Regions from separate parts of the Homo sapiens genome. Here region 1 is linked to region 2. A link means that fine-mapping ties the variant in region 2 to the expression of a gene that starts in the linked region. Tissue or cell type: CD8 T cells. Region 2 holds a variant in brackets; the other region holds the start of a gene. All regions are shown on one strand. Distances are from middle to middle.

Evidence for each region. PIP is the estimated chance that this variant, and not a neighbour inherited with it, causes the effect.
Region 1: HIBADH starts here. The variant in region 2 is fine-mapped to the expression of HIBADH in CD8 T cells (CEDAR, PIP 0.95). The same link has a PIP of 0.9 or more in CD4 T cells.

Annotation. Positions count from the first base shown.
Region 1 is chr7:27,658,073-27,668,320 of GRCh38, reverse strand. It overlaps HIBADH (3-hydroxyisobutyrate dehydrogenase), which reads left to right and starts at 5,438. Exons shown (of 8, transcript NM_152740.4): 1 at 5,438-5,623. The coding sequence starts at 5,533. The region is part of intron 2 of LOC105375211 (a long non-coding RNA gene); the gene reads right to left. RefSeq lists a silencer at 5,249-5,668 and an enhancer at 4,884-5,701.
Region 2 is chr7:27,520,904-27,531,151 of GRCh38, reverse strand. It overlaps HIBADH (3-hydroxyisobutyrate dehydrogenase), which reads left to right. Exons shown (of 8, transcript NM_152740.4): 8 at 4,780-5,710. The coding sequence ends at 4,938. Among named protein-coding and RNA genes, the nearest start is that of TSL, 90 kb to the left of the region's middle. RefSeq lists an enhancer at 3,567-4,144. The variant A/T (reference allele first, on the strand shown) is at 4,456.

The DNA.
Region 1 (10,248 bases), 140 kb before region 2:
TTATAATTGCTTCTAGGCCCCCTCAGATGACAGAGCAAAGAGACATGTGTATACTAACCTGTGTCTATATACACATTGATAAATATTTCTATATGTAACCATCTGTATCTATATTAAGTTAAGCATGAGTTCATACTGATGTCTCCAACTTTAATCCATTTAAATAAATGCAATAATATGTACTTAGATTTGCTCTTATCTTAGGACACAACTCAATTATCTTACCGGTGTTTTGTGTTCCAAAATTTTTAAAACTGCCTAGAACAAAGACTTGTCATGCCATCCAAATCTTATGGCTAAGTGACTAAGTTCTGGCCAGTGGGAAGGACAATTGTGGGGTGGGACTTATAGGGAGGCTTCTGAAAATGAGAACAGTTTGCTGACACACCTCTTTCCTTTACTTTTCCCTCCTTTTCTTTCCTCTTGCCTGGAACTCAGACAAGATGGTTGGACCACTAGCAGCTATCTTTGATCATGAAGTAATTATGAGGTTAGAAAATCATTTTAGACAGTAAAACAAAATGAGAAGTTTGGAATTTTGACAACTCAGAGCTGTCAAACTGGCCCTGGTTCTGCCTACATCCACACTACTTTTATGAGAGGAAAAACCAAATTGTTATCATTTGGACTTTGTTTTATCCAACCAAACCTGATGCTGATAGTTTTTGAAAGTGACTTTAAATGTAGTTTCTTAATCAAACTGGATTGTTTTTATGACTGCTTATATATTATTCAGAAAAAGACTTCTTGAGGAAAGTCACTTTGAGTTGAGTCCTAACAAGTGGGGAGTGTAGAAGCAGTATTAGAATGTGTGGAAAAGAGAAAGGAAGGAAAGAAGAAAAGCAGAGAACCTGAGGAACTCAGAGTGCTCTGGGAAAGGGAAAGAGTACTGCATTGTCAGGGAGGTGAGTACAGAGAGAATGATATCTTAGGAATAGGCGTAAAAATGATTAGATAGTGTGGGTATTGTTGGGAAAGTCTTATTCCTCTTCTTCCCAGATTCTGAGATTCTGATGACAGGAATGTTAGATTTTTTTTTTTTGAGACGGAGTTTCACTCTTGTTGTCCAGGCTGGAGTGCAGTAACGCGATCTCGGCTCACTGCAACCTCCTGCTCCCAGGTTCAATCGATTCTCCTGCCTCAGCCTCCTGAGTAGCTGGGATTACAGGCGCCCACCACCATGCCCAGCTGATTTTTGTATTTTAGGTAGACACGAGGTTTCACCATGTTGGCCAGGCTGGTCTTGAACTCCTGACCTCAGGTGATCCACCTGCTTGGGCCTCCCAAAGTGGGATTACAGGCGTGGGCCACCACACCCAGCTGAATGTTAGATCTTTTGTTAAGAGTCACAACACATGCCCCTGAGCTTCGTGGCTTTTTTTTTTTGAGACGGAGTCTCGCTCTGTCGCCCAGGCTGGAGTGCAGTGGCACAATCTCGGCTCACTGCAAGCTCCACCTCCTGGGTTCACGCCATTCTCCTGCCTCAGCCTCCCGAGTAGCTGGGACTACAGGCGCCCGCCACCACACCTGGCTAATTTTTTTGTATTTTTAGTAGAGACGGGGTTTCACCGTATTAGCCAGGATGGTCCCGATCTCCTGACCACGTGATCCGCCCGCCTTGGCCTCCCAAAGTGCTGGGATTACAGGCTTGAGCCACCTCGCCCAGCGCTTCGTAGCTTTTTAAATCCCAGTCTAGTTTCTCTCTGTTTAGATTAGATAGTTTCTACTGTTCTATCTTCTAGCTCAGTGATTCTTTTCTTTATTCTGCTGTTGAGTTAAAAAATTGTATTTCTTGCATTTTTTCAGTTTTAAAATTTCCATTTATTTCTTCTTTATATGTTGTTTCTTTGCTGAGATTTCTTTTTATTTAATTCAAGCATGTTTTATTGTTTTATTTTACTTTTTGAGAAGGAGTCTCACTCTGCCATCCAGGCTGGAGTGCAGTGGCGTGATAGCTCACTGCAACCTCCGCCTCCTGGGTTCAAGTGATTCTCCTGCCTCAGCCTCCTGAGTTGCTGGGATTACAGGTGCCCACCACCACACCTGGGTAATTTTTGTATTTTTTTGGAAGAGATGGGGTTTTACCATGTTGGCCAGGCTGATCTTGAACTCCTCACCTCAAGTGATCTGCCAGCCTCGGCCTCCCAAAGTGCTAAGATTACAGGTGTGAGCCACCATGCCTGGCCTCAAGCATGTTTTAATTGCTTCTTGAAATATTTTCTGATGGATGCTTTCAAATCTTTGTTAGATAATTTTAACTTGTCATCTCAGTGTTGGCATCTATTGTCTTTTTTATTCAGCTTGAAATCTTCCTGGGTTTTGGAATCATGAGTCATTTTTTAATTGAAATTTGGTATCATGAGTGATTTTTTGTTGAAATCTGGACATTTGGGTATTATGATATTTTGGATATTATTTAAACCTTTTATTTTAACTAGTTTTTCTTGACACTGCTCTGGCAGGGGGCATCAACTTGTAAATGGCAACTGGTAGTAGAAGTCTAGGTTCCTTATTCCACCTCTGTTGACACCAAGGGTGGGTGGTTCCTTGTTACTGCTGGGCAATGGTGGGAGTTTCAGCTCCCCACTAGTTGTCCACTGATACTTCCCTAGTTGAGAGGGCTTGGAATGGCTCCTTACTGCCCCCATGTAGCCTCCAGTGACACCATGGAGGGGAAGGGGTGTGACATCCTTACCATTGGGCAGTGATGAAAGCTCTGACTCTCCAATACACCTCCAATTACACCATCTAAGCAGGGAAAGGGAGGGGTACCTCACCACTGTAAGGTAGGAGTGGAAATCCAGGGTCGCCCTGTGGTTTCCAGTGACACTGAGAGTAGGGAAGGATGTGTGTGGAGGATTACTTGTTACTGCCCAGTTGAAGATGAAAATCCCATACCTCTCTTTGGTTTTCTCTGACATCACCTTAGAGGGGTTGAGGAGTAGAGCGATTGGGGTGTTAGGATGCTGGGGTGTCTCATCACAACCTGGAGAGTGTGGAAGTCTAGGCTCCCAACTCAGCCTTTGCTTTATGGGGTGGGGTCAGTGTGTGTATGTATGTGTGTATTGTTTGTCTACAGTGGAGTGATTATCTTCTAAATGTTTCCTTTCTTGCTAGGCCACTCCTTTTTCATCACTTGGCTAGAAAGAGCAGCCTTTTATTGGGGCACTTTTTGTCTATCTATGCTTCCTGGCATTTTGGGGTTTCTGGTTTTGGCTTCTCCAGCACCCAGTTTGGGGTATATAAGGCTACATGAAAACCCAAGGAACTTCCCACCGTGTTGCTCTCTGGACCCTAGCCAGTGTGACTTCTCTCCACCTTTCAAAGTCTCCCTATGTTTATCTTATATATAATGTTGAGTTTTTAGTTGTACTTAGAAGAATAGGGAGAAACCTATCTACTCCATCTTCCTGGAAGCGGAAGTCAGGGGCCACTATAAGGCATTGAAACAATTACAAACAAAAATGCGTGGCAAAGACTCAGGGAGGAGTTGCAGTGCCTTTCAAACAAGGGCATCAGGAGGGCAATCAAATGAAGAAAGCTAACCAGCCATAGGCAGGAACTGCATTTGCCAGTACAATAATATCTGCAAGCACCTTCAAACAGTAAGAATTACTTAAAAATTCATAACGCTTCTTTAAAATCATGGAAACCTATGAAAATTCCTTAGTTTATGAATCAATGTAGGGCTTCTTGGAGGAGACATTGTTGGAGAAGACAATGCAGGGCTTCTTGGAGGAGACACAGTTGAAAGACCAATTGCAGTTCAGGAGTTAATTATAGAAACCTGTAGTGCTGGAGGAAGAAAAAGAAAAAGAAACCTGTAGGCCCACATTTGTTGCCTGCAGGAGATCTATTCCAGCTAAAACCTGACGAAACCAGGAAGAGAGGCACAGGTGGGAAATGCTCCAGAAACTAATTTACCCCTAGTAGGGGTGGGGACCCAAATCTAGGAGAAGGTCTAATTGTTGAAATGAGTTTTTTCTCCCTCCCTCCCTTCGTCCCTTTCCTTCCTTCTTTTCATTTAGTGTTGGGTAGAGGGTTGGGGTGGAGTGATGGTCAAAGAAGGGCATTAACTTCCTCCCAGTTACAGATAGGGACCTTGCACTCTGTACAAGTTTTTAAGTTTTTGGAAACGTTGCCAGCATGCCCAGAAACATGAAAAGAGCCCAGATGGAAATGATCCAATTCCTTTGCTTTCAACTCCATGGGTTACTGAGTTGAAAAAAAGGTCAAAGTCAAATTTTGTTGATTGTGCTACTTAGATTGGGGTTCGCATTTCCCTAGCTACTCCATACACATTCTCTTTCCTGCTGTATTGCCATTCTCCAAAGGCTATAGTCTTGCTTTGGTGTGGTCATGGCTTCCAACCCTTTGGTGGAGTCAGTGGAGATGAGAAGGCCTGCAATTACCCCCAAGGGGTTTACAGACTCAAATATGTACACTAAGCATTGACAGAAGAATGACTAAATGTCTGTCTCTCTGCACCGCGCAGTGGCTCACGCCTGTAATAACCAGCACTTTGGGAGGCCGAGGCGGGCGGATCACTTGACGCCAGGAGTTTGAGACCAGCCTAGGCAAAATGGCGACACCCCGCCTCTACTCAAAGTGCCAAAAAAATTAGCCGGGTGTGGTGGCGCACGCAGGCCTATAGTCCCACCTCACCTACTCCGGAGGCTGAAGCAGGAGAATCACTTGAACCCGGGAGGCGGAGATTGCAGTGAGCCGAGATCGCGCCACTGCACTCCAGCCTGGGTGACAGAGAGACTCCGTCTCCAAAAAAAAAAAAGGTCTTTCTAATACACATACATATACTACTACTTTCTGGATTTTATATTTAGTTTTGCTTACAAAATGGATTTAGGGTGTAGAATTTTCAAAGATTAGAGAAATATGCCTTGAAATAGAAAGTGCAAGTTTCTAGTAACTCTTCCCTTCAAAGATAATGTTACCAACTTCTTTTCCTACTATTTTTAGTATTGAGAAACTGTTGTGTTAAGTAAAATCAAATGAATTTAAAAGTTATTACACACATGGTAGCTTTCTGAGTGTTTTTCAAGCTGCGAGTCAGTTTTGTCCTTTTTAACACGCAGCGGTTGTGGGGACAAGGTTTCCGAGGAGGCGGGAGCGAGCGACGGCCCCCGCCTCCCACACGCCCTCTGCTTTGGTAAACAAGGAGACTCCCGCCCGCAGGCTGTAAATGAGGCACGAGCTTGGGGGCAGCGCCAGGGCGCCTGGCGTCACTGTTCAAAAAGGCCTCTTATTGGTCCTTCGCACAGCTGCGGACCTGGGAATTCTGATTGGTCTGCTTCCCTGTCCGTAAAGGGATTGACAGGCCCTGCCGCGTCAGGCCGCTCCTCTCGGCTCCGCGCTCCTTCCCTCGCGCGTGGGCACCCGCCCCCGAGCGGTGAGAGCGCGTGCGCGCGCGCCCTTCTCCGTGGGCGAGCCAGCCAGTCCCGCTGCACACGCTCGCAGTCTGTGGGCCCTCCGGGAGGCGGCGGAGGTCACCGCGGGGAGAGGGGCGGGCGCAGCATGGCAGCCTCCTTACGGCTCCTCGGAGCTGCCTCCGGTCTCCGGTACTGGAGCCGGCGGCTGCGGCCGGCAGCCGGCAGCTTTGCAGCGGGTAAGGACCTCACGCCTCCTCCCCCTTGTCCTTCTTTCGGCCGCTCGCTTCTTCTGTCCAGACGGCCGAAGAAGTCTTTTCTCGGGAGGCCCTGCGGTTGGGCTGGGGCTTAAAAAACAATATTTTGGCTGGTACTAAAGGCCTGTCCTTTTCTGCGGCCGCCACTCACTCCGCGAGTACCCCCCTCTGCCTTCCCTCCCTTTCTCCCGGGCTCCTGATGAACGGGTTCAGCGCCCTTTTCGGGATTTAGGAAGAGGTGGGGAAGAGCTTGGGCTGAAGAGAAGAGAGTATTTGGGACCCCGGCATGCTGCTTTGGAGTTAGGACTCCGAGGACGTTTGGAGCGCCCAACTCCAGGAGCAACCCGCACTCACCCCAGCGACCCCTGGTCTTTCAGCGCCCCCAGGGTGCACCTTGGGTTGGGGACACACTTGGGCAGCAGGGCCTGATGTTTAACCACCTGAGTCCGAGGGGATGGCCTTATTACACAAGCGGTGGCTGTACAAGCCAGGCAGTAAGTCTTTCAGCAAAGTTTCAGTCACCCTTGACCAGCAAGACGGGCTTCCCCCCTCTACTGTAACCTAAAAAAATGTCATTTTTGTCAAATTATGAACCAAAACACGTTCAGCGTCCTCAAGATTGTGGGCAGAATTAATCCTGCCTCCCTCCTCTCATACCATGGTAAATTGTGGAAGCTAGCCATGAACTTACAAAGAGGCAGTTTTTAGAGCCAGGATGAAGATCCACGGAGATCTAATACAGTCTTTCATACTCCGCACGAGGGACATGAGGCCCCTTGGATGAGTGAATCAGGATATTCCCAGCAAGACCTAGAAAGTTGTTATCAGTTGTTCCTAATTCCTTAACTTTCTATCACACCAGGACTCCTCTTTAATTGAAAAATTGGTTGATTTGTGGGGGCACTGCCGTTGTCTTCCTCAAACTGAAAGTTTGAGAGTTGTAACAATGCATCGTTTAGCAAGATCATACTGAGGATTAATAACAAAAAAAACCTTGGCATTAATTTTTTCTAATCTTTGCTTAAAAAAAAAATAGTGGGTTAGGATTTGAGCCCCTTGGCCCCCCGCCCTTTTTTTTTTTTTTTTTTTTTTTTGAGACAGGGTCTCTGTCGCCCAGGCTGGAGTGCAGTGGCCCAGTCACACTGCTCACTGCAGTCTCGACCTCCTGGGCTCAGGTGATCCTCCCACCTCAGCCTCCCGAGTAGCTGGGATTACAGGCATGTGCCACCACGCCCGTCCAATTTTTGTATTTTTAGTAGGGACGGAGTTTCGCCATGTTGCCCAGGCTGGTCTTGAACTCCTGCGCTCAAGTGATCCTCCCAAAGCGTTGGGATTATAGGCATGAACCACTGTGGCTGGCCAGGAATTGTAAGAACTTTCTCTTACAATTCTTAACAGCTTCCCATTCTCCCCCTCAGTGAAACCTCTGAATTTCCTTTCTGGCTGGAGAAGAACAGAGGCTCGGTGAGATGCAAGAGACCAGATGTCTGATACAGAACCACAGTAACAAGATAAAAACTCAGAATATGCCAAACTTGAATGTAACCACTGTTTGAGCTTCATATATTGAGCTACAAAAATGCTTCCGACTTTTGAGATAACCCTAAAAGAATAGACACTTTTCCACAGTAGCACCAGTTTTCACATGAATTCACAATTCTTTCAGTTCCCATTAGCCAAGGAAGACATATTTGCTGTTTAGTGGTTTTACAAGGTGTTCTAATGGTATTTTAATGAACCCTTGATGTACCTTTTAGAGTTATGAAAGTTCTTACCAATTCATGGTGAAAGAGCCTGAGGCCTAAGACTGTAATACGTGCCTCTGTAAACTGGGAGGGCCTACCTCAGAGTGCTGATTAGACTACTTTGGCATATGGTCTTGTACTTTGGGTTCTTTGGCCCAAAGGTAATTGTCAGAATATAGATTTCTGATAAATTTTAAATAGTTCTTTTGTGATGAAGTGGTTAAATCACTTAAGCAATTTTTTTTTCTCTTGAAAAAAATTTTTTTTTTTCCCTCGGAGTCTTTGTCTGTCGCCCAGGCTAGAGTGCATTGGCGCAATCTCAGCTCACTGCAAGCTCCGCCTCCCAGGTTCACGCCATTCTCCTGCCTCAGCCTCCGGAGTACCTGGGACTACAGGCGCCTGCCACCACGCCCGGCTAGTTTTTTGGTATTTTTTAGTAGAAACGGGGTTTCACCATGTTAGCCAGGATGGTCTCTATCACTTGACCTCGTGATCCGCCCGCCTTGGCCTCCCAGAGTGCTGGGATTACAGGCGTGAGCCACTGTGCCCGGCCTTTCTTTGGAATTGTTTTAAACATTTAAATTTCTGTTAATTTTAGTTTACTGCAAAAGTGTTAACTTTTCTGACATTAGATTCTTAAAGAGTAGAAAAAAATCTGCCTGCAAGTTTGGAGTCAAATGACATTAAGAAAAAGAACCATGTTCAGATAGTAATGTGTGATGTTCTGAATTCTGTTGGATATTTGTAGTATGTTTAAGATGTTTATATCATATGAATGATAATATTATAAGGAGCTATATAATTTACTGTTTAAAAAAATGAAACCTGAAAGTTGCCGGTTAGTAGCACATCTTTTTAACTTTTTTATAAATACATTTTAGAGACAGGTCTCCCCGTGTTGTCCAGGCAGGAGTACAATGGCACCTACTTAGCTCACTGCAACCTTGAACTCCTGTACTCAAGTGATCTTCCGCCTCAGCTTCCCAAGTAGTTAGGATTGCAGGGTGCACCACGATACCTAGCTAATTTAAAAAAAAATGTTTTTTGAGACAAGGCTAGTTGCCTACTACGCTGGTCTAGAACTACTGGCGTGAAGCCATCCTCTTGCCTTGACCTCCCAAAGTGTTGGGCTTACAGGCATTAGCCACTGTGCCCAGCCTGCCACATCTTAATTTTTAAATGTTTGTTTGTTTGTTTGTTTGTTTATTTGAGATGGGGTCTCTCTCTCTCTCTTGTCCAGGCTGGAGTGCAGTGGTGCAATCATGGCTCATTGCAGCCTCAACCTCGTGGGCTCAAGCAATCCCCCTGCCTCAGCCTCCCAAGTAGCTGGGACCACAGGTGCACACCACCACACCTGGCTTTATTTATTTATTTATTTTTTTTGTAGAGATGGGGTCTCACCATGTTGCCCAGCCTGGTCTTGAACTCTGGGGGTCAACTGATCCTCCTGCCTCAGCCTCCCAAAGTACTGGGATTACAGTCATGAGCCACTGTGCCTAAGCCTAATTTTAAAATACTTAAAGCATTGAAAAGGAAATAGAAGAATGAGAAATGTTAAAGTGTACATGTATTACTATTTCATCACCTGTTTGATAAAATTGTGTATGTTATTTTAGAAGGTAATTAAGTTTAGTTTCAGACTTATTTGTACAGAGAAGAAAATCTACAGCTATAGGCCCTCTACAAAATGTCACGTTGTGACTCTACAGCTTGTACATGGAAAAATAAATCACATCAGATCATCTTGAGGTGACCACCTGACCAAAGGTAGAATGGAAAAATTAGCATCATGTATAGAAACAGGAATACAATTTTTAATATTATTGGTCCTTTTTGTATATGTGAAATTTACTTTCAAAGTAGCATAACTCATTGGATAAATCAAATATATAATGGCAGTTTTTCCCTTTACATTAGCTTCTAGGGCTGCACATGAAGTTCTGAAAAGCTGCTCATGGTCCGGGGCCTAAAAGTTGACCCTAAACTTGTGAAATTACATAAGGAGCGTATTTATTACTAAAATAAGTTGACTGAAACCGTAAAGGCCTTTATAGAGAAAGTCGTCACCCTTAGTTTAGTAACTGTTAATAGTAAAGCAGATAGAGTGCTTATGACGTAGTATTATGTGATAAAATAGATATAAAAAATGTATTATGTGATAAAATAGACATACATTGTATAGAAAATATAACCTTATGATATAATGAAAAATGCAGTCAAAAGACTGAAAGTCCATGCAAAATGTTTTTTTTATTTTTGTGTAATGAGATTGCTTCCCCTTACAACTGTATACTTTTTCATTCTAGTTTTCTACAATGAAAATGCATTACTTTGAATAGAAAAGAAGCCTCAGAAATGTAAAATAATTAACTTGTTACCAATTTTTGCATTTTGACACTTAGTGAAACCTGCTTTTTGATAGCACTTAAGGTTATCAAGATACGGATAACTCCCCTTGTTACATTGGAGAAAGAGGTCATAATCGGTAAATTTGCATCTATAAATTTAGAAACAAACTTTGCCAAGTTTTCTGGCTAGTTTCTTTTCATTCGTCCTCAGTAATAGACACTAATGCTAGTTTCTTAACCAGTGAACCAGTATCACCTTTGTATTTGGTTGATTGATTTTCTCCCAGCTTGGTTTTATTTATGTTTTAACTCTACTTTTTCCACGCACTACTGTCAGAAGTTATTTAAAGAGAGATGCATTATTTAGGTTTGAGAGTTTTTAGGGCAATAATCATTCCATTATACTCATGGATTTCTGCCCCTTTGGGTGCAAATTATTTTATATTTGCCAAGCGCTTATTCAGGTGTTTCACCTTAACTAAAAGCTTTCTTTCCCCAGATACAGGGCTTCTCC
Region 2 (10,248 bases):
TTCACGGTCCAATAACACCTTCCTTCTCTTTCTCTTAATAAAGCATATGTCTCAGGTAAGAGGCAAAATTACTAGAATATTCACTCTCACTGAAAATGAGTAAAAACCTAACTTAGATGAAAATCCTTATCTTGTTCATTTTTATTCCTGGCCTTTTGGTTGAGAAGAATGGGCCAGACCATGTGTGTGTGTGTATGTGTGTGCGTGTGTGTGTGTGTGCGCACTTGGGTTTATTTATATGAGCCGGTAAAATTTCGTTCACCATTAATTTATGTTAATTTACCAACTTCTTAAATGAGAACAGTGAGAATTTTCTCATTGTTAATAATACACTGGCAGTGCATATATGCATCACGAAGAGAGGATTTTCCCATTGATAATAGATTTCCAAATACATCTTCCTGCTTTAAGATTTTAATATATGGATTTATATATAAAAACTAGTTAAGTCATTGGAAAAGCAAACTGTCATCCTTCTCTTATTTGAGATCTCAACTTTAGAAAGTCTATGTTCTCAACTACAGAAAATAATTTTTAGACCAGCTAACTTTCAGATTTCTGCAGTGCTTATTTTCTCCCAGTTGAGGGTTGGTTTTTGTTTGTTTGTTTGTTTGTTTGTTTTTCCTGATTAAAAAGTAAGAATACGGCCAGGCGCGATAGCTCATGCCTTTAATCCCAGCATTTTGGGAGGCCGAGGAGGGCAGATCACCTGAGGTCAGGAGTTCGAGACCAGCCTGGCTAACATGGTGAAACCCAGTTTCTACTAAAAATAAAAAAAATTAGTCGGGCGTGGTGGTGCGTGTCTGTAAGCCCAGCTACTCAGGAGGCTGAGGCAGGAGAATCGCTTGAACCCGGGAGGTGGAGATGGCAGTCAGCTGAGATAGCACCATTGCACTCCAGCCTGGGCAACAGAGTGAGACTTCGTCTCAAATAGAAAAAAAAAAAGAAAAAGAATACATATACCTAGATACCACACAAGCATACCTTGGAGATATTGTGGGTTCAGTTCCAGACAACCACAACAAGTCACACAAATTTTTTGGTTTCCCAGTACATATAAAAATTACGTTTATACTATGCCATAGTCTATTAAGTGTGCATTAGCATTATGTCTAAACAATATACGTATCTTAATTTTAAAATGCTCTATTGCTAAAAAAGCTAACAATTATCTGAGCCTTCAGTGAGTCATATAGTCCTTTTTTGCTGGTGGAAGGTCTTGCCTTGAGGTTGATGAATGGTGATTGACCAGGGTGGCGGTTGCTGAAGGTTGGGTGGCTATGACAATTTCTTAAAATAGGACAGTAATGAAGTTTAAGTTTACTGCATTGATTTACTCATCCTTTCACAGAAGATTTATGTGCTACTGTTTGATAGCATTTTACCCACAGTAGAACTTCTTTCAAAAACGGAGGCAATCCTCTCAAACCCTGATGCTACTTTATCAACTAAGTTTGTGTAATATTCTAAATCCTTTCTGTCATTTCACCAGGAGTAGATCCATCTCAAGAAACCACTTTCTTTGCTCATCCATAAGAAGCAACTCCTCATCCCTTCAAGTTTAGCACAAGATTGTAGTAATTCAGTCACATCTGCAGGCTCCACTTCTAATTCTAGTTCTCCTATTTCCACCACGTCTGCAGTGACTTTCTCCATTGAAGTCTTAAAGGCCTCAAAGTTATCCATGAGCATTGGAATCAGCTTCTTTCAAACTCCTGTTAATGTTGATATTTTGACCTCCTCCCATGAATCACAAATATTCTTAATGGCATCTAGAATGGTGAATTATTTTCATAAGGTTTCAGTTTACTCTGCCCAGAGCTGTCAGAGGAATCACTATATATGGTAGCTATTGCCTTATGAAATACTTCTCACATAAGAGTTGAAAAATGACTCTTTGATCCATGGGCTACAGAATGGATGTTGTGTTCATAGACATGAAAACAACATTAATCTCCCTGTACATCTCCATCAGCACTCTTGGGTGACCACGTGTACTGTCAGTGAGCAGTCGTATTTTGAAAGGAATCTTTTCTTCTGACCAGTAGGTCTCAACAGTGGGCTTAAAATAAATATTCAGTAAACCATCCCATAAACAGATGTGCTTTCTTCTAGACTTTGCTGTTCCATTTGGAGAGCACAGGCAGAGTAGATTCAGCATAATTCTTAAGGGCCCTAGGATTTTTGGAATGGTAAATGAGCATTGGCTTCAACTTCAAGTCCCCAGCTGCACTGGCCCTTAACAAGAGGGTTAGCCTGTCCTTTGATGCTTTGGAAACAGACATTGACTTCTCTTTAGCTGCGAAAGTCCTAGATGATATCTTCCAACAGCAGGCTGTTTCATCTACACTGAAAATCTGTTGTTTAGTGTGGCTACCCTCATCAGTGATAGCTGGATCTTCTGGATAACTAACTTCCTGCAGTTTCTCCATCAGCAGTTGCTGCTTCACCTTCCACTTTTATGTTATGGAGATGGCTTCTTTGCTTAAACCTCATGAACTAATCACTACTAGCTTCACACGTCTTCTGCAGCTTCCTCACCTCTCTCAGCCTTCACAGAATTGAAGAAAGTTAGGGCCTTGTTCTGGGTTAAGCTTTGGTTTAAGGGAATGTTTTGGCTGGTTTGATCTATCCAGACCACTCAAACTTACTCCCTATCAGCAGTAAGGCCGTTTCACTTATCATTCATGTGTTCACTGGAATAGCATTTGTAATTTTCTTCAAGAATTTTTTCTTTGCATTCTACTGTTTGTTTTAATGGGCCTGCCTTTCAGCCTGTCTTGATTTTCTACATGCCTTCCTCACTAAGCTTAATCATTTCTAGCTTTTGATTTAAAGTGTGAGACAGCTGACTCCTCTTTTCATTTGAACACTTAAGAGGCCATTGTAGGGTTATTAATTGGCCTAATTTCAATATTTTGTGTCTCAGGGAATAGGGAGGCCTGAGGGGTAAGAGAGAGAGAGCTGCCATTCAGTGGCTGGGCAGTCAGAACACATGTGTACCACATTTATCGATTATGTTTGCCATCTTATGTGCGCTTTCTGACACCCCAAAACAGTTTCAATAGTAACATCAAAGATCACTGATCGGCTGGGCACAGTGGCTCATGCCTGTAATCCCAGCACTTTGGGAGGCCGAGGCAGGTGTATCACCTGAAGTTAGGAGTTTGAAACCAGCCTGGCCAACATGGTGAAACCCTGTCTCTACTAAAAAAAAAAAAAAAAAAAAAAAACGCTGGGTGTGGTGGTGGCAAATGCCTGTAATCCCAGCTGCTCAGGAGGCTGCGGGAGGAGAATCACTTGAACCCAGGAGGCAGAGGTTGCTGTGAGCCAAGATTGCGCCACTACACTCCAGCCTGGGCAACAAGAGAGAAACTCCGTCTCAAAAAAAAAAAAGTTACTGATTGATTGCAGATCACCGTAACAGAAATAATAGTAATGAAAAAGTTTGAAATATTGTGAGAATTACCAAAATGTGACAGCTGCATGAACTGGGCACATGCTGTTGGAAAAACAGTGCTGATAGACTTGCTCAATGCAGGATTGCCACAAACCTTCAATTATTAAAATACAAAAACAAACATGCATTATCTGTGAAGCATGATAAAGTGAAGCACACTAAGACAAGATGTGCCCATACTTGGCTTACTCTCCCTCATTCCCCATGACGTTTGTTCATTCTGCTTCTTGAATATGCCTTGAATTCATCCAGCTCCCTCCTCCCCAGCTAGCTGTACCTTGGCTGAGCCTCGTTTGTGTTGTACCACAAATACATCTTAACTGATCTTGTCTTTCAGCCTGATCTTCTCCAGTTTATTTTCCATATCAAAGCAAGAGTGAGCTTTCTAAAATGTAAAATCCTGATTGTGTCACTTCTCCTTTGAAGCTTTTGTAGTTTCAGTTACTTGGAGATTAAAGTCCATCCCTGCAACTTGTCTGACAAGCCCCCAGATGCCTTGGCTTTTGCTTGCCTCAACCAGACTGATTTTCTTTCCCATCCCCCTCTCCTTGCTTTCATCGTGCTGAACTCACTTCTCCCTCTTGTTCTGTCTCTTGGAAACCTTCACATTTGCTTCACATTTGCTGTCACATTGTCTGCCAGGATGGATCATTCTTCCTTGCCCACCACCTCCCTGCCACCCCCATGTTTTCACCTGGCTCCAGGTCTGTGCTTCACTGTCTTCTTTTTCTTCACCTTTCCCAGCACCCCAGACCCTGCTTCCTTGGATCCCATGATAGTACTCCTCCTATCCAATTATACCATGCTTATTTAATTGTCTTTCTCCTTAACACAATGTGAGTTTGGGTGGGCTGTGGCTGTTTTGCTCATCATTTTATCCCAGCTTCTGGCACATTGTCAGCACACTTCAAATATTTATTGGATGAAGTAATATTTGCAACTGTATTTCCTGTTTTGCAGTTTTATTTCTCCTTGTTTTCATTTAAGAATTTTTT[A/T]AAAAAAATTTATGTCTTAAAGATTTCCACAGATAAGATTACACAGGGAAATTTTTTTTCTTCAAATCTGTGGAACAAAACAAACAGGTATTGTGGAAGGTGGAAAAATCGAAGAGACACTCAGAAATCAAGGTTTCTGTCTGGAGCAATTTTGCAGTTATATGAAAGCGCTTATTTAAAAATGTTAACTTACCATAGTATTTATAAGTATCTTATTTTTTCAGATTACATTTTTCCTTCTTTCAAACCAAAACATAAGGAACCACAGTTCCAAAGAGCCTTTACCACCAGTCTCAGCGTGTTCTCTCCTCCTGTTTGATTTAGGATCTGGGATTGGCACAAGACTCTGCTACCAGCACAAAGAGCCCAATCCTTCTTGGCAGTCTGGCCCATCAGATCTACAGGATGATGTGTGCAAAGGGCTACTCAAAGAAAGACTTCTCATCCGTGTTCCAGTTCCTACGAGAGGAGGAGACCTTCTGAGTGTGCCCTTTGGCCACGGACACTGTTGGGAACCAAACTCTGTCTTGGAGCCTCCTTTTAGCTCACTCCACAAGTAAATGGATTTAATCAAAGGTCACCTATCTGCTTTTGATTGTCTAGGTCACAGTAATCCCTAGGATTTTTCACCGCTTATTCTTTTTGTCTTTTTAACAAACATATTATCCGAATTTTTTTTCTGCAAGCCACTGATAGTCTCTGCTAACTAGCTTAATTGACCTTTTTACAAAGTTTGATCCCCAAGCATCCTCAACTAAATCATTGAATACTTCAATCAGGATATTATCTGCTTTACTTTACAAATAAAACCAAATCTTTTGTCAACAGGATGAAACCCATCTTAAAGGAAAGAAAAGGAATTGGTGTGAAGAGAGAAGTTAGAGAAGGGAAATGCAGTGAATTACTATCTGTGTCCATCAGGAAGTTTGTCCTGTTAACCAAATGGTTACTGCACTACCAGGGTTACTGGTTTATTTTCCAGGGAGCTGATAAAGCAGGAGAACTGTTGCTGCATGTTTTCTATTTGGACTCCGTCACAATATGGTAGGATATCCCTCACCAACTCCCGACACTCAGCAGACTTGTTTTTATATTTTTTTCTTTCTTGTTCATTCTTACTACGTATTTTTTGACTTAAGAATGACATCTTTAGATGCATTTCAGAGCCAATGATGATATTTGCTTTAGATAATTATTATATTATTATAAATATAGCCATATTATTTTGAATTCAAATAAATTTCTATACTGGTAATACTTTCTTGGTGTTTTTGTTTCTTCCCCATCATTTGGTGAACTAATGTTCTGACAAACTGATGTTCACACTAATGGGGAAAGGATGGGAATAAAGAGAAAGGAGGGGAGGTCAAAAGGAACAAAGCTCTGAGTTGGCCAGTGGCAAGCTAGTGTTTTGCTGCTTTACCTGAATCCTTATTGAGTATTCGTTTGAATGTTTTTTAGGTCATCAGTTCTCTAGGAATTCAGCCAGCATTAAGTGTAACATGCCCCAATATGGAGCACAGTCACCACTTTTCCCACCTCAGCCTCTAGAAACATTCCAGGTAATAGACCTAGACACCAAATTTGGCAGAAGTATTACTACTTTCATCATTTTACTGGTGATAAAAAATTCCAGGCACTGTTATAAGTGCTGGGGATACAGTGATGAACAAGACACAAGATTTCTGCCCTTGCAGAGCATAAGTTCTGGTGTCTCATGTGTTTGTGACAGACAAGAAATATGTATTTTTCAGATAAGAAGAACTAAAAAGAAAAAGCAGGATAACGGGGATGGATAGGGAGTGCCAGGGGTATTTTCTTAGGGTGATAAGGAAAGTTCTCCCCAATAAGGTGTCAATTGAGCAGAGGTAAGGGAGTAAGCAATGCAGGTATCTGAGGAACAAACATTCCAGGCAAAGGGGACAGAAAGTACCAAGGCCCTGAGGTAGGACAGTACTGAATATGAGGAATAACAGGGAGGCTATAAGTGAAGTGGCACAGAATGAGGGTGGCCAGATCATATGGGGCCTTGCAGGGTATGTTAGGACACTGGCTTTTATTCTGAGCAAAATGGGCAATGTATCAGTTAGCTTTTGCTGGATAACAAATCACCCCAAAATTTAGTGGCTTAAAACAACAAACATGTATTGTTTTTCAAGATTCTGTGGGTTGGCCATATTATTATTCTGGCCTAGACCAGCTCATCTGCAGCTAGAGTGTCTAGTTTGGCTTTACTCAGCTGGGACAGCTGGAATGGTTGGGGCTTCTCTCCATGTTTTCATGCATTCTCCAGGAGGCTGGTATGAATTTGTTCACATAGTGGTGGAAGCATCCCAGCAGCAGCATAGGACAAGCCCTGACTTTCTAAGCCTCTGCTTGCTTCATGTTTGTACTTTCCCCTTGGCCACAGCAAATGTCATAGCCAAGCCCAGAATCAGCATATGTGGGGTCTGCATAAGAGTGTGGACACAAAGAGGGGCATTATGGTGGCCTTTTTGCAAACAGCCTATCACAAGCAGCCTGTGAAACTTTTTCACCAGATTGATGTGATCTGACCTACTTTTTTAAAGGGATCACTCTGGATGCTGTGTGGAGAAGAGTCTGTAGGAGCAAGGCTGGAAACAAGGAGACCAATTCGGAGGCAATAGTAATAACCCAGTTGAGAGGTGGTAGCTGGGACCAGAATGTTAAAATGATGGAGGAGGCAAGAAGTGGTTAGATTCTGAACCTAGAAAACAGAGCCACTAACTGATGGATGGCATGAGAGAGAAAGTAGGGAGTCAGGGATAATCCCACTGTCAGTGGCCTGAGAAAGCAGAAGAAAGAAGTTGCCATTTCCTATATGGGGAAGATCATGGGGGGAAGATTTGGGGAGGATTGTAGGAAGTTTAGGAGAAAAAAATCAGAGATTTATATGAGATGCCTTAATAGACATCTAAGTAAAGAAGAACAACAGTCCAAGGACTGAGCCCTGTGTTACTGTAACTTTAGTGGTTAGGAAAATGAGGGGGGACAAGCAAATGAGACTGAAGCAGAGAGATCAGTAAAGTAGGGGAAAAACATGGGAGCAGTGTCCCAGGAGCCAAATGAAAACAGTATTTTAAGGAGGGAATGATGATCTGTGAGTTGAGTAATAGGGCTGAGAATCATTTGGATTTGGCAAAAGAGCTATCACTGGTGACTTTTTCAAGAGTTTTGGTGGAGTCTTGGAAATGAGAGTTGGATTGAGAGTGGGAGAGGAATTGGAAACAGTAAGTATAGAGAATTCTTGAAGAGCTTTGCTGCAGAGGAAAACAGACAAATGGGATAGACATTGGCAGCAAATAAGGGACCAGGAGGAGTTTTATTATATTTTTAAAATAGGAAATGTTATGGGATTATACGGATGGAAGTGGAATGATCCAGTAACGAGGGGAAGTAATGGCACAACAGAGAGGCTACTTGCTAAATGCTGCCTTTCGAGTAGTTGAGAGGGAAGGGGTTTAACTGTGGCCAAATCTCTGCAAATTAAAGGAACCAGCAAAAACAGATCAGATCACATTTCAGCCCGTCAGCATCTTACGTGAAGGATAGAATAGAATTGTAATCAATTATACAGTTTTCAACACGAACAAAATATTTGTGCTGGAAAGGAATTACCTCTGAGTGTGACCCTGTACAAGCCACCCTCTACTGACCATTCATTTTCTCATCTATGAAGTTGTCATAAACCATCTAGCTTAATATTAAATGCTTTCTGGAAATGAAAACAAAAGATATAAGGACAATCACACATGATAGCAGCATATGGAAAAACTGGAACCCTTATACATTGCTGCTGGGAATATAAAATGGTGCAGCCACTTTGGAAAATAGCTCGGTAGTTCCTCAAAAGGTTAAACAGTGTTGGCACATGATCCAGCAATTTCACTCCTAGATGCATAAGGAAAAAAATATATCCACACAAAGCTTGTACACAAATGTTCATAGCAGCATTATTCATAATAGCTAAAAAGTGGAAACAATCCAAATATCCCCCAACTGATGATTGGATGAACAAACTGTCATATCTGCACAATGGAAGATTGCTTGGCCATACGAAGGAATAAAGTACTGATCCATGCTACCACATGGATGAACTTAAAAACATACCAAGTGAAAGGCGGCAGATGCAAAGGGCCACATATTGTATGATTCTACTTATTTGAAGTATTGGATAATAGGCAAATCCATACAGACAGTAGATGAGTGGTTTCCAAGGACTGGAGAGGGGGAAATGGGGAGTGACTGCTAACGGATATGGAGTTTTTTGGGGGGAGTGATGAAAATGTTCTGGAATTAATAGTGGTGGTTCACAACTTTGTGGATATATTTTAAAATCACTGAGTTGTATACTTGTAAATAGTGAATTACCTCTCAATTTTTAAAAAGCCTAAGGAAAATATCATGAGTTAAGATCTTTTGATAAGTGGTTCTCAACTGTGGCAGTTTTGCTTGCCAGGGGGGACACATGGCAATGGCTGGAGACATTTTTGGTTGTCCATTTTACTGGCATTTAGTGGGCAGAGGCCAAGAATGTTGCTAAACCTCTTATAATGCACGGGACAGCACCCACAACAATAGTTATCCTGCCCAAAATGCCAGTCAGGCAAAGTTTAAGAAACGCTGCTCTAGGTGTATGTTCCACAAGACCTGAACTCAGCATATCAAAACCTGAGCTCCTCATTTTCCCCCAAAGCCCTGCTTCTCCTTCTGGTCCTATCCCACGACTCCTCCCAGGCTTTCAGGACCCATCCCTGACTCCTCCATTCCTCCACCCATTCTCCTTAGCTAATTCTAAATCTCTAGTGCCTATTATAGGCCCTCACCAGTTCTTATCTAGGGCAGCAGTCCCCAACATTTTTGGCACCAGGGACTGGTTTTGTGGAAGACAGTTTTTCCATGGGTGGTGGTTGGAGGAATGGTTTTGGGATGAAGCTGTTCCACCTCAGATCATCAGGCATTCGATTCTTGTAAGGAGCACACAACCTAGATCCCTCACATGTGCAGTTCGCAATACGGTTCAGGATCCTATGAGAATGTAATGCAGCTGCTGATCTGACAGGAGGCAGAGCTTAGGCAGTAATGCTTGCTCACCGGCTGGCCACTCACCTGCCCCGCAACCCAGTTCCTAACAGGCCACGGACCAGGTCAGTACTGGTCCTCAGCCCGGGGGTTGGAGACCCCTGATCTAGGGCACTTCAGTATCTGCAGCGACACCTTTTATTTTCCCTAACAGCTTTTTAAAGGTATAGTGTACATACAATGAAATTTGCTCCTTTTATACAATGAATGGCTTTTCGTAAACTGAGAGTTTTACAACCCTCACCACAATTCAGTTTTAGAACATTCCATCACCCCTGCAAAATCCCGTGCATCCATTTGTAATCACTGCTCATTCTCCCGGCCCCCAGCCATTGGCAGCTACTAAGCTTTCTGACTCTAGATTTAAAGCTGCTTCTTGGCCACCAGCCTGGTTTTATTTCCCAATTGCTGAGCACTGCTGCAAGAGAGGTCTTTCTAAGACTGAAATCCAATCCGGCCAACCCTGTTTAGAATGTTTGAGCCTAGGATACAGTCTGGTCTCCAAAGCCATCCTGCTGGGGCTTCTATTTCACCAGCACCACTGCCCACAATACTTGTCTTTTCCCAAACGTGCCATGCTTTGCACACCTCAGTACATTTGCACATGCCATTTCTTCCATTTGGAATGCCGCCCCTTCTGGCACCGTGACCGGTTCAGCACTGTTGTCTTCTAAAAAGCCTTCCTCAGCA